Linked DNA regions of Homo sapiens: regions 2, 3 and 4 are each reported to be linked to region 1. Evidence: microRNA targets listed by miRTarBase, many of them from high-throughput screens and not tested one by one. Region 1 holds a microRNA gene; each other region holds the end of a gene's coding sequence.

What was found. Region 1 holds the annotated microRNA hsa-miR-577 (UAGAUAAAAUAUUGGUACCUG, at 1,227-1,247, shown strand). A microRNA usually pairs through its seed, bases 2 to 8, with sites in the 3' UTR of a target mRNA and lowers its output. Matches are read on the target gene's strand: a 7mer-m8 pairs with bases 2 to 8, a 7mer-A1 pairs with bases 2 to 7 and ends in A, and an 8mer does both.
Region 2: the mRNA of SLC5A6 is a reported target of hsa-miR-577. Seed matches in the 3' UTR shown: 7mer-m8 at 968-974.
Region 3: the mRNA of NDUFAF3 is a reported target of hsa-miR-577. Seed matches in the 3' UTR shown: 7mer-A1 at 2,471-2,477.
Region 4: the mRNA of WAC is a reported target of hsa-miR-577. Seed matches in the 3' UTR shown: 7mer-m8 at 1,870-1,876.

The regions. Positions count from the first base shown.
Region 1 is chr4:114,655,548-114,658,695 of GRCh38, forward strand. MIR577 (microRNA 577) reads left to right here and starts at 1,212; the gene lies at 1,212-1,307. All of the region lies in intron 2 of UGT8 (UDP glycosyltransferase 8), which reads left to right.
Region 2 is chr2:27,197,742-27,200,889 of GRCh38, reverse strand. SLC5A6 (solute carrier family 5 member 6) reads left to right here. Exons shown (of 17, transcript NM_021095.4): 17 at 311-1,303. The coding sequence ends at 454. Among named protein-coding and RNA genes, the nearest start is that of ATRAID, 13 kb to the left of the region's middle. RefSeq lists a silencer at 2,823-3,023.
Region 3 is chr3:49,022,568-49,025,706 of GRCh38, reverse strand. It overlaps NDUFAF3 (NADH:ubiquinone oxidoreductase complex assembly factor 3), which reads right to left. Exons shown (of 5, transcript NM_199069.2): 3 at 2,939-3,005; 4 at 2,731-2,831; 5 at 2,212-2,651. The coding sequence ends at 2,535. IMPDH2 (inosine monophosphate dehydrogenase 2) reads left to right here. Exons shown (of 14, transcript NM_000884.3): 10 at 438-581; 11 at 667-811; 12 at 905-1,048; 13 at 1,129-1,212; 14 at 1,303-1,382. The coding sequence ends at 1,324. Among named protein-coding and RNA genes, the nearest start is that of NDUFAF3, 2.0 kb to the right of the region's middle. RefSeq lists a silencer at 300-439.
Region 4 is chr10:28,619,109-28,622,108 of GRCh38, reverse strand. It overlaps WAC (WW domain containing adaptor with coiled-coil), which reads right to left. Exons shown (of 14, transcript NM_016628.5): 14 at 1-2,572. The coding sequence ends at 2,503. Among named protein-coding and RNA genes, the nearest start is that of BAMBI, 57 kb to the left of the region's middle.

The sequences.
Region 1 (3,148 bases):
CCCAACTACATTATTTTTAAAACAATATTAAGTCTGCAGGAAATTTGCAAACTCAGTTCAAAGTTATTTTTTTTACCAGAACCATCTGACAATAAGATTTCTATATGATACCCTGTCACCCTCCAAAACATTGATATATATTTTGTGCACATGAGGGCATTTTTCTGCATAATCACAATACAAACCATAAAAATAAGGAAATTAACAATGATATATTACTACCATCTAAGTTTTACACCTCAATGAAGTTTTGTGAGAGCCACTAATAATGTCCTTAATAAGGAAAGGATCCAGTTCAGAATTATCAGTGGCCTTTATTTGCTATGTCTTTAGGCTCCTTCTTGAACACTTACTCAGTGTTTCTTAGATTCTCATTGTTTTGATGTTGTTGAAGGATATCGGCCTGTTGTATAGAATGTCCCTCAATTTGGGTTTATCATTTGTTCCTCATAATTGGATTCAGGTTTTGCATCCTTACAGGAATATCACAGAAGGGATGCTATATTCTGCATGTTGCATCTGATTAGGTGGTACGTGATTTTGACTTGCTTCATTATTGATGATGTCCACTTTAATCGTTTGATTAAGGTGTTACTTACAAGACTTCTTTGCTGTCACATTACTAATTTTACTTGGTAGTCAGAATTGGAAGCTATGTAAATATTTCTCATCAGTCTCTGTGTCTTTATGGCATAATACTGATTATCATGAAAAAAATTGAGTGTTTTCTTTTTGTTTTTGTTTTTTTTTCTGGAAAGAAAGGAGGCAGACAGATTAGCTAGCAAGACTGCCTTTCTTTTGTTTATGTAGGTCACATAATTTAGTAGCTAAGCTTGATTTTTGAAAGGAGACATTTCTTTAAAGTGCTCAATAATTTGTTTAAAGTTCTAGGGAAACGACAGTGTTATTTATCCTGTTAACTGAATGGCAAAATAAAGCAGTGTACTTGCTGTTTATCCTTTCAAAGACTTAGATTACTATTAGCTTTCTTGATTTATTAAAAGAAATAAGTATTGAGCACCTACTGCATCTTACACCTAGGAGAAGAAAAGTCTTGTGAATAAACTCACATGCTACAAGAAGTGTGGTAGGTGCCCTGTTGAAAGAACAGGTCTCACAGGGGAGAACAATAGAGGAGATACTTTGTTGTGATCTTGGTAAATAACTGTGACCTGAGGGGGAAGTTTCAGGCACCCAAGGCAGGCTGTATTTGGGGGAGTGAAGAGTAGATAAAATATTGGTACCTGATGAATCTGAGGCCAGGTTTCAATACTTTATCTGCTCTTCATTTCCCCATATCTACTTACTGTAGGTACGGCCTCATTAAAAAATATAAACTCTCTGAAGACAGAACATTTTGTTTATTTATTCTTTGATATGTCCCAAGTGTCAGATATGGTACATAGCAGCTGGTCATGGCTATCAAATAATCATTTATCAAATAGTGACCCAGAAATTAGGTGGGTTTCCAAGTCCATTAATCAAATTTCTTTTGTAACGTAAGAAAGATTTAGATATCATTTCCGTAGTGATTTTTTTTTTCTGGTGAGAGTTTCACCTCCGTTTATTATTTTTGTCCTTTTTTTCTATCTCGTGGTTACTTTCCATATCTCCTCAGTACCTTGCCATCATCATATCCTCGGGATGTCCCTGCTGCTTGTGTTCAGTTCCTTGAAGGTCTTAAGAACCTTGAAAATTTAACTTTTCAAAGTCAAATCAGGGTTTCAAATTTTGCTTACTTATTTTAATTGTAACTGTACTGGCAAAATTAATCAAGCTCACAATGAAGAAAAACCGATACTGCAGAATCTCAGTGGAAATGAATACACCCTTCTGGGTGCTTATTTCATTCTCCTGAACTTTCACTGTGTTGAAGGCATCTTTTGAGATTTTAAAAATAGAACCATTGCCTTGACATTGATCTCTCTATTGCTTCTGTAGCGTAATTGTAGTTTATACCCTTCTAGATGATCTGGGAAATCATTTGAGTTTTCTGAAAAACTGAAAACTAGATTTGATGCTGCATGTGAACATTTTTGGTACTACTTTTCATTTATGTATTTTAAACAACTTTATTCTGAAAAGTCCAAAACATAGTGAACAAATACAACTGAGAGAAAATATCTTGGTGCAGAATGACCTTTTTTTTTTTCCTTTTCTCAATGTGGATATCATTTCAGTCCATAATCTGTGTATTACTTATCAGATATCATGGCCAGGGAAGAGAACAGCATAATTTTTAGTTGACAAAGCACTTTTATATATTTAATCTCATTTAATCTCTGCAGTGTGCTTGTAAAGTATCGTAAGTGTTTTTAGAGATGAGGAAGCTGGGCCTCAGAGAGAATAGGTGGCATCATTAAGATCATACAGCAAATTGTGGAATTGGGGTTTGAAGCAAGCCTCTTGCCAAACAAATCAGTGAAAACAATGATTGGTGCATTTTTATTTTGAATGGTGACCTTTATATTTTCAGTGTTGTTTGTTGTTGTTGTTTAATAAGTCTTGGTTAACTATATTAGCAGTAGTCAGAGATCACATTTGATATCCCAAGATTTTTTTAAGAGCATTTGCTATCAAAATGTTCACTATCATTTTACCTACTAAATTTTGCAGAATGAAATTCTTTGCAACCCACCTGACCAAAGCAGAGCATTCTTTGTATCAGAAATATTAAATGGGAAAAGAGGCCTATTGATGTTGGTGTTGGGAATAAGAAAAGGAACTCCAACACCCACCCCCCTCATCTCCCATTATCATCTCTGTGTAGGATTCTCTCACAGTCCAGGCATTCTTTTCCTCAGAATGGATGGGGCCAACAAAGGATGCAGTGTTATAGGTTTCTCTACTGTGCTGGCCCCTTCTCAAGGCTCCCATTCTTGGAGGAGAGAAAAGAGTGGGTTTGGGTTGCAGGCTGGTATCAGGAGAGATCTGGAGTGCAAACATGACAGCCTAGTGTGTCCCCACACCTCAGACCTGTTATCCTCTCTAGAGGTCTAAAAGACTCTGATGTCCTCAGAATCCAGGATAGCAAGGATGGAGGTGGGCTTGCACCGTTCAACTTTTAATTATACTTGCACTGTTTCTGAAGCTCATTTTTTAAGAAGCTACTTACAATTTTCTTGCATTGGGATGTGTTTTACATTGG
Region 2 (3,148 bases), not on the chromosome of region 1:
TCAGGATCAGCTAAGCCTAGGCTGTCCCACACGGCTGTCTCAGGTTCTACCCACAGGACTGCACTGGCTTGGTGGGCAGAAGGATCTCAGGGCTCAGAGGAGCTCAGCCCCAGCCTGGGCCAGTCAGCTCCCCTCCCCAGCCCACCCTGTGCTCCCTGCTGTGCTATGCCCTCCCTCTTTTCCCCCTGCTCTCCCTCCCGAACCCAGCCTTGCTGGGCTCCCTTCTGGCGGGGACCTTTTTTGTGTGAATCCTGTCAAGCACCCGTCATCCGTCTTCACCAGTTCCACCCCTTTGGCTCTGTGTTTGCAGGACCACCTCGACACTGGCCTGTTTCCTGAGAAGCCGAGGAATGGTGTGCTGGGGGACAGCAGAGACAAGGAGGCCATGGCCCTGGATGGCACAGCCTATCAGGGGAGCAGCTCCACCTGCATCCTCCAGGAGACCTCCCTGTGATGTTGACTCAGGACCCCGCCTCTGTCCTCACTGTGCCAGGCCATAGCCAGAGGCCACCCTGTAGTACAGGGATGAGTCTTGGTGTGTTCTGCAGGGACAGGCCTGGATGATCTAGCTCATACCAAAGGACCTTGTTCTGAGAGGTTCTTGCCTGCAGGAGAAGCTGTCACATCTCAAGCATGTGAGGCACCGTTTTTCTCGTCGCTTGCCAATCTGTTTTTTAAAGGATCAGGCTCGTAGGGAGCAGGATCATGCCAGAAATAGGGATGGAAGTGCATCCTCTGGGAAAAAGATAATGGCTTCTGATTCAACATAGCCATAGTCCTTTGAAGTAAGTGGCTAGAAACAGCACTCTGGTTATAATTGCCCCAGGGCCTGATTCAGGACTGACTCTCCACCATAAAACTGGAAGCTGCTTCCCCTGTAGTCCCCATTTCAGTACCAGTTCTGCCAGCCACAGTGAGCCCCTATTATTACTTTCAGATTGTCTGTGACACTCAAGCCCCTCTCATTTTTATCTGTCTACCTCCATTCTGAAGAGGGAGGTTTTGGTGTCCCTGGTCCTCTGGGAATAGAAGATCCATTTGTCTTTGTGTAGAGCAAGCACGTTTTCCACCTCACTGTCTCCATCCTCCACCTCTGAGATGGACACTTAAGAGACGGGGCAAATGTGGATCCAAGAAACCAGGGCCATGACCGGGTCCACTGTGGAGCAGCCATCTATCTACCTGACTCCTGAGCCAGGCTGCCGTGGTGTCATTTCTGTCATCCGTGCTCTGTTTCCTTTTGGAGTTTCTTCTCCACATTATCTTTGTTCCTGGGGAATAAAAACTACCATTGGACCTAGAATTTGGGCTCCTGTACTGTCTTCACCTGCTCTTGTCCACCCTACTGCATCCTCTGGTGAGGATAAGGAGTCCTATCCTATGTACAGGTCACCTTCCTGTGCTGAGGAGGGGGGCTGTGGCTTCAAGTCCCTGCTGTCCCTGTGTCTGCAGGGGACAGTGTTGTGCTCACCATGGTAGAAGATGCACACCCTCTCCTAGGGCTTCTCATCCCCTGGGGCTTACTTAGTCTGTCCCTTCTCCGGCCCCACTTTCCCTTTGCCAGAACCTTTTGCTCTCAGATTTTTACTTTTGGAACTGGAGGAAGAATGTTCCCATCTGATTTTAGAAACGGAACATTCTAGCTGGACTTTTATGGTCTTGTGAAGAACACTGTGCTCACACCCTCCCACACCTGGCCTCTGCCCCTGCCTGGCCCTGTTCAGCTGCCCACATCAGCTCTGCACCAGCTCTCCGGGGTCTCTTAACAGAGACCGGGTCCCAGGCATATCTGAATTCAGCCTCAACTGAGGCCTTCTCCCAGGGCTTCTAGAGCACATTCCAGCTGTTCTCTCATACTCCATGTAGCTTAGGCCTGGGATGTTCTGTGTCCCTTTTTCTACCTCTACCCCAGCTCACTCGGTCACACCCCAGCCCCTTTCACCTCTGCCCTGGCCAGCCCTGTGGAGGAACAGGGCCTGGTTGTGCCAGAGCCAAGACACTAGCTACTCCCAACCTGCCTAGGCCTCATTTATATTCATGACGACAATATTGTCTCCTAATGGGTCTTAAACCTGTTGCCCTGGATTTTTTTTTCCATTCCACAAGGCTCTGGTCTTGAACATAAACATTCCTTCCAGTATGGACTTCAGGTGTCTGGTCATGATCTATTCTCAGTCTGGGAAGGTACTTTGACAGGCCAAAGGTGTGTCCACTGAATCTACCATATTTCAGACATGCCTGAGTGGTACTCCAGGGAGAACTGGGGAGAATGATCCCCAGGGTTTAATTTGCTGAATTAGGTAGGGTGGAAGTGAGTCTATGTAAGAGGACATGGAAACATTTTACGAGGGGCCCTTGGACTCAGGCCTATTTTGTTTTGTCCTGTGAATTAAAACTTCAATGATGGGAAGATAAGAAGCCTATAATTATTATTTAGAAAAGATTCCTTTGGGAGACCGAGGCAAGACGGTTGCTTGAGGCCAGGAGTTCCAGACCAGACTGGGCAACATAACCAGATCCTGTCTCTACAAACACAAACTAGCCAGCATGGTGGCATGAGCCTGTAGTTCCAGCCACTTGGGAGGCTGAGGTGGGAGGATTGCTTGAGCCCAGGAGGCTGAGGTTGCAGTGAGCCAAGATTGTACCACTGCACTCCAGCCTGGGCAACAGAGCAAGACCTTGTCTCTAAAAGAAAACAGAACACAACAAAATCCCTTTTCCTTCATAGATTGTTTTTGGGGAATGTAATCGAATCTATCATGCCAGACTCCCAAATTCAAGCCTTATTTGTTTCCTGGTTCAGGTGTCCTGGTAGAGCTGCTTCTAGGACAAGGTCTTACCAATGGAGGCAATAGAAACTGAGAATGTCTGTAAAAACTAGAAGTGGACGATTTATATCTCAAGCCCTACAAGAAGGAGAGACTGGTGATTGTCACCAAGAACTGTTGAGGGAATGGGATCATCTCTGGATTCTTAGGGCCTGATCTCTGAACCCATTTTCTGGCCAAGCCAGTGTCTGTAGGAGAGTTGAGAGCAGGATGCCCCTCACTGCTGCCCTTGGTCCAGGGCTTTACATAAAAAATACCACATTGGTCATATCTGCAAACATTGGGATTGTAAAGTAAGTAATGCCCAGAACTGCACTCTG
Region 3 (3,139 bases), not on the chromosome of region 1:
ACTGCCTGCTCCACACAACCACAGCCTGCTCTCCTACACAACCACTGCCCTTATCTTGCCTGAGCTGCCCACCATTCAGGGAGGAAGGGCTGGGCCTGACCTCAGTGCCTCTGGGGACTAACTGCACGGTGACTCCTGCCCCATCTGATACCAGCTGGACGGGGGCTTTCCCGGCTGCTAAGACTGCATGTGCCTGAGGCTGCCCTGGGCACTGCACACATGCACGTGCACATGTGGGGGTGAGTAGAGGTCAGCACAGCTGTTTGTACTATTTAAGGCAGATGTGGCAGCAGCCATCCCAGACACGTCTGTTCCTCAGCCAAGCTGCAGTCCTGATGCAGATGTAGCCAAAAGCTCCTGGGTCCTAAATATGGCCACAGGGTCCACTGCCCGTCCCCATTAACCCTATCCACCCATGTGTTCCTCCATCTCAACAGTGCTGGCCTGTGGGCGGCCCCAAGCAACAGCAGTGTACAAGGTGTCAGAGTATGCACGGCGCTTTGGTGTTCCGGTCATTGCTGATGGAGGAATCCAAAATGTGGGTCATATTGCGAAAGCCTTGGCCCTTGGGGCCTCCACAGGTGAGGCCCAGTACCCGTGAAGGCCAGTGGGACCCCCTCCCTAGTGCTGCTTAGGCTCTAACCCAAGCACTCCATCTGTCCGCAGTCATGATGGGCTCTCTCCTGGCTGCCACCACTGAGGCCCCTGGTGAATACTTCTTTTCCGATGGGATCCGGCTAAAGAAATATCGCGGTATGGGTTCTCTCGATGCCATGGACAAGCACCTCAGCAGCCAGAACAGATATTTCAGGTGGGACAGGCAAGCCAGTTACCCCACCCTAATCCTGCACTGACAGTCTCATCTCTGCTGTGACCTTGCCCGTGTCTCTGCCTCTCCCTGCAGTGAAGCTGACAAAATCAAAGTGGCCCAGGGAGTGTCTGGTGCTGTGCAGGACAAAGGGTCAATCCACAAATTTGTCCCTTACCTGATTGCTGGCATCCAACACTCATGCCAGGACATTGGTGCCAAGAGCTTGACCCAAGTCCGGTGAGCTTGGGGAGCTGGGACATGGGTAGAGGGGCTGGTCCAGGGCCAGCTACCCACATTTGACCTCTGCCCTTCTTCAGAGCCATGATGTACTCTGGGGAGCTTAAGTTTGAGAAGAGAACGTCCTCAGCCCAGGTGGAAGGTGGCGTCCATAGCCTCCATTCGTAAGTCACCCTGTCCTTGGTGGGGCCTCTGCCATACCTCATGCCTCCTTTCTCCTGCCCTCACCTCACAGGTGGTCCTTCTGCCTGCAGGTATGAGAAGCGGCTTTTCTGAAAAGGGATCCAGCACACCTCCTCGGTTTTTTTTTCAATAAAAGTTTAGAAAGAAAAAAGTGATGCCTGATCTTTCAACAGACAGGTGGGGCTCTGTAGCTGCCACTACCACAGATGCACACAAAAACAGCACCCTCATTTCCAGGGGGAGCCTCAGGCCCCGAGATAAATGTGCTCCATGGACCTGGAAGCGGGTAGTTCCAGGTCCAAAAAGTTCCTCCTGAGGCTGCTCACAAAACAGCTGACTATAGCTATAGCTATGGCTCTTGGGGTTTCAGTCTCACACTGAGCATCTGACTCTGGCTCCCAAGGGGTCAAAGAACAAGCCCTGGGACTGGCATACACAGGGCATCCTGCTAGCCCATAGCTTGGCCATATAGGACCAGGTCAACACACATATATATTCCCTAACTTGAATCTCTCTCGGCCAGGCACATTGGCTCACGTCTGTAATCCCAGCACTTTGGGAGGCAGGTGGATCACTTGAGATCAGGAGTTCGAGACCATCCTGGCCAACATGGTGAACCCTTTCTCTACTAAAAATACAAAAATTAGCTGGGCGTGGTGATGCATACCTCTAGTCCCAGCTACTCAGGAGGCTGAGGCAGGAGAATCACTGAAACCCAGGAGGCGGAGGTTGCAGTGAGCTGAGACTGCGCCACTGCACTCCACCCTGGCGAAAGAGCAAGACTCATCTCCAGAAAAAAAAAAAAAAAAAAAAGCCCAGTGTAGTGGTAGGGGCCTCTAATTCCAGCTACTCAGGAGGCTGAGGCACGAGAATCGCTTGAATCCAGGAGGTGGAGGTTGTAGTGGGCCAAGATCACGCCACTGCACTGCAGCCCGGGCGACAGCGAGACTCCATCTCAAAAAAAGAAAAACAATCAGCGATTTTGTGAGAAAAGCCGTTGAGGTCCTCTCAAATCTGCATGTGAGCAAGTAGGTCTACAACAGGCAAACATACTGCTTCCCGACTTCTGAAAAGTCAAGGAATCCTAAGTAATCTAGATGAAAAAGTGACTCCTTGGTTTCTTCACATTCCCCTCCAAGAGCCCAGTGAGCCATCAGCTCCTGGCCAGCAACACACCTGATACAAAATGGGAGAAGTGTATAAATTATTATGTTGATAAGCAAGATAAGTGCCAAAGGGTAGATAAGAGTGAAAGCATTGGGAAGCCTGGCAGAGTGCAGTCAGCAGGTCAGTTCCTGGCGGTTCATTGAGCAGCTTGGCCCAAAGATGTAAGTGAAGTCCCTCCTGGTGGAGGGATGAGAGCAGCTCCAGTTACTCGGCCTTCATGACACAGGAAGTTGAAGGTGGCACAGGCATTGGGCTGCAAAGAAAAGGCCAGCATCAGCCTGTCTAGCGCCAGGCCTGTGCTCCCCGCAGCATGCCCCAGTCCCGGGACTCACCGTGTCCTGCACTTCCACAGCAATGCCCCGCTGCCTCATGGCTTGAAGCACCTGGGACTGCAGCCTCTCGGTCCGGTCTCCAGTCCCCACCACCACGATCTCTAGGGAAGGGTGGGTGTGGCTAGTCTACAGTTCTGTTGAGAGGCTGCAGTGGGGGTCGCCTTCTGGGGCCCAGAACACCTCTGTTCTCCCTCCCCTTCCCCAGTACCTATCCGGGGCTCCAGCAACCAGAAGAGGGAAAAGCTGTCTTCGGTGATGTCCTGGTGGGATCCCACCTGTGCAGGGAGGAGGCACATTTAATACGACAAATCCACGCAGCCTCTCCCCATCTCCATCCACTGCAGGAGGAGACAGAGGAAAGCCAAGTTTGCAGGGACCAAGCAGGGTGAGGGCCTGTGACTCTGGGCCT
Region 4 (3,000 bases), not on the chromosome of region 1:
AGTTGGCAGTTCAAGACCAGCCTGACCAACATGGAGAAACCCCATCTCTACTAAAAATACAAAATTAGCCAGGCGTGGTGGTGCATGCCTGTAATCCCAGCTACTCGGAACGCCGAGGCAGGAGAATCGCTTGAACCCAGGAGGCAGAGGTTGCGGTGAGCCGAGATCGTGCCATTGCACTCCAGCCTGGGCAACAAGAGTGAAACTCTGTCTCAAGAAAAAAAAAAATTCACTATTAAGAAATACCAAATTAGGCATCTTCTCCTAAATATATGTGACTAATTCATTTAGGGATGTAAACTTTTTTGAAAAACAAAACATAGGTACACAGACCAGTAGACTATAAGCAAATCAAATTCAAATTTACCTAAATCACAAATTGCCATCTGATCAGGAAACATTTGCCTATTACAACAAATTGCTCACTTCTTTCCAGGAAAGATACAGTAAGGTTTCTAGCTGAACACACAGCTCTTTGGGGTTTCATTTACATGCACTAGTTAAATTCAGCAGATGTTAACAATCTCACAGAGGTATAAACATGACAATAAATTAATGACATGTCTTTTCTTACATTTAAAAAGTATCCTTAAATTACAGGAAAATATCTTCAAGATTTTAATTCCTTTTAATTACACTGGAACATTTTTGTATTTTAGAAAACACCAACACTATCGCTTACAGTTAACTTTTTGAGCTTACTGAAAAGCCTGAACATTTAACTTCCATACTTTCAATATATGCTTAAAGCACAAGAGCAATTTCAAAATTTATGTTAGCATCCGAGAATGTAGTAACATTGACATTGATGTCTAACATAAAAAATAAGCCCTTGGTGCTGCCAGTTTTGGAAGCACTTATCTGCCCCAACAGAAAAAAAAAAAAAAAAAAAATCACCAAAAAACCCTAAACCAATTTAAAGAAAAAAAAGAAGAAGAAGAAGAAACACCTTTCTAAATCAGATGGCAAGATTTTGATGGTAAAGGTTTTTTTGTGGGGGAAGAAAAGATTTTTTTCATGCGGAAACCCTTGTGATTTGATACATTACTGGCAGTGTGAAGCTAAGGCTATGTGACTAATATTTCAGCAAAGGAAAAAAAAAGTCAAGGTAATTTTATAGTAGCAATAGTTTCTTTTTTTATTTTAATATACTTTAGGAAACAATATACAAAGCTGCGCTTTCCTGCTATTTCCAGATAACAGCAGGAAGCTCCAATTACACAAATTTAGCGTTTTGTGATGGCTAAGAACAGCAGTCAGCACCAGACTTGAACAGTTAGCTACAACACAAACATCCTTCCAAATGAAATGTCATAATAGCAAGACAGGTAAACCAGGGTTTAACAAATGACAACCACTTGGGAAGTGACTTAATCATTCTTGTTGAATTTCTTATTTCATTAAATATCTCATACACAATTTCCTGTTAATACGTTTTAAACAAAACCTCCCTTAAGGAATTATTTCAATTAAGTATAAATATTCAACAAGAACAGTTCTGATAAAGAATCCCCAGGTAGTTCAAATGCTAATGTGCACTGACCGAAGGAAAAGAAAAATAACAATTTTTGTTTGTTTTAACATGTTTATTACAACAGATACAATTCACATCTGACTAGCTCTGTTTCCTCTTTCCCCTCCCACAACCACGTTCATTGGGCCATTTCCTTATATTTGAGCAATCAATGTACTTTGAGCACACATGCCTGTCCAGCAGTACTTTTAAGTCCATTCTTAACAGGGTGCAAATGGATTTCAATAATTTATACAAACAAGTAGGTTATGCTCAATCACTGCAATTTTAAGCTACTGTACACAGGAATGAAAAGGTTATAGAAAAGTGCCATAGCAACAGTGCCTTAAGAAAGGAGATAAAGAGGAGCCTTAAAAAAATGGATAAAATCAGAATTTCAGAAGGAAATGGAAACACACGGGAAATGAAAAACATTTCTCTGCAAAACAAATGGAGAAGCACTGCTCTTGATCAGGTGCAAGTGTGGAAACAGTTGTTTCATATTTTGTACACTGCCCATATGGTTCAAAATCGTATCCTTAGACACAAATCGCCTGGCGCTTGCACTGAATTTTTGAAAATGCAAGATTTCTGAATGATAAATTAACCCCCCCAATTTTTTTTTTTTTTTTTTTAAAAAAGCTAATTTTGCAGACAGGTTTACATGTAAAAGGCTAGGTATTTAGCCACCTCAGCATTGATTAGTTTTGGATGTCTAAGCTCTGTTACACATGGCTTCCCATGGCTTCACTCTACAAAACATATTTACAACGTGAAGGATACATCTACAAGAAATCTACATTTCAAGGGTTTTACAAATCAATCTTGTATCTTTCCCCTGAATTGACTCTCACAGACCCCGTCCCCTTGTCATTTCCTTTGCCCAGCTTAACGGTCCAAAGTCTACTTAAATGCAGCTCAAAAATGTTAAGATTGGGCAACAGATTTACAGTTCCTGTTCTCAAAACCATGTGCAATTATTCACATCTTCACACCATGAAGGAATTCTGATTTTTTAGCTTTTCAAGTTCCTTAATTTGTTGTCTCAAAAATAGTATCCTGAAAAAAAAAAGCAGACATTAGAACCTGTGTACATATACAAATATTACAGAAAACCCGAGCTTTTATAATTAAAATTTTTTAAATTAAAACAAGTGATTTCTAATTAAGGCAAAGAAATTTAAAAAATTATTTAACTATAAATTGGTTTACAGTTAAGACAAAGTAAACATTTAATACATAATATCTATTAAAGTATAAGGATGATGAAAGGATGTTTTAGTTTTCAAACAACTTTTTATTTTATTTTATTTTTTGAGACAGAGTCTTGCTCTGTTGCCCAGGCTAGAGGGCAGGGGTGCAATCTTGACTCACTGCAATCTCCGCCTCCCGGGTTCAAGCAATTCTCCCTGCCTCAGCCTCCTGAGTAGCTGGGATTACAGGCACCTGTCCTTACGCCCGGCTAATTTTTATATTTTTAGTAGAGA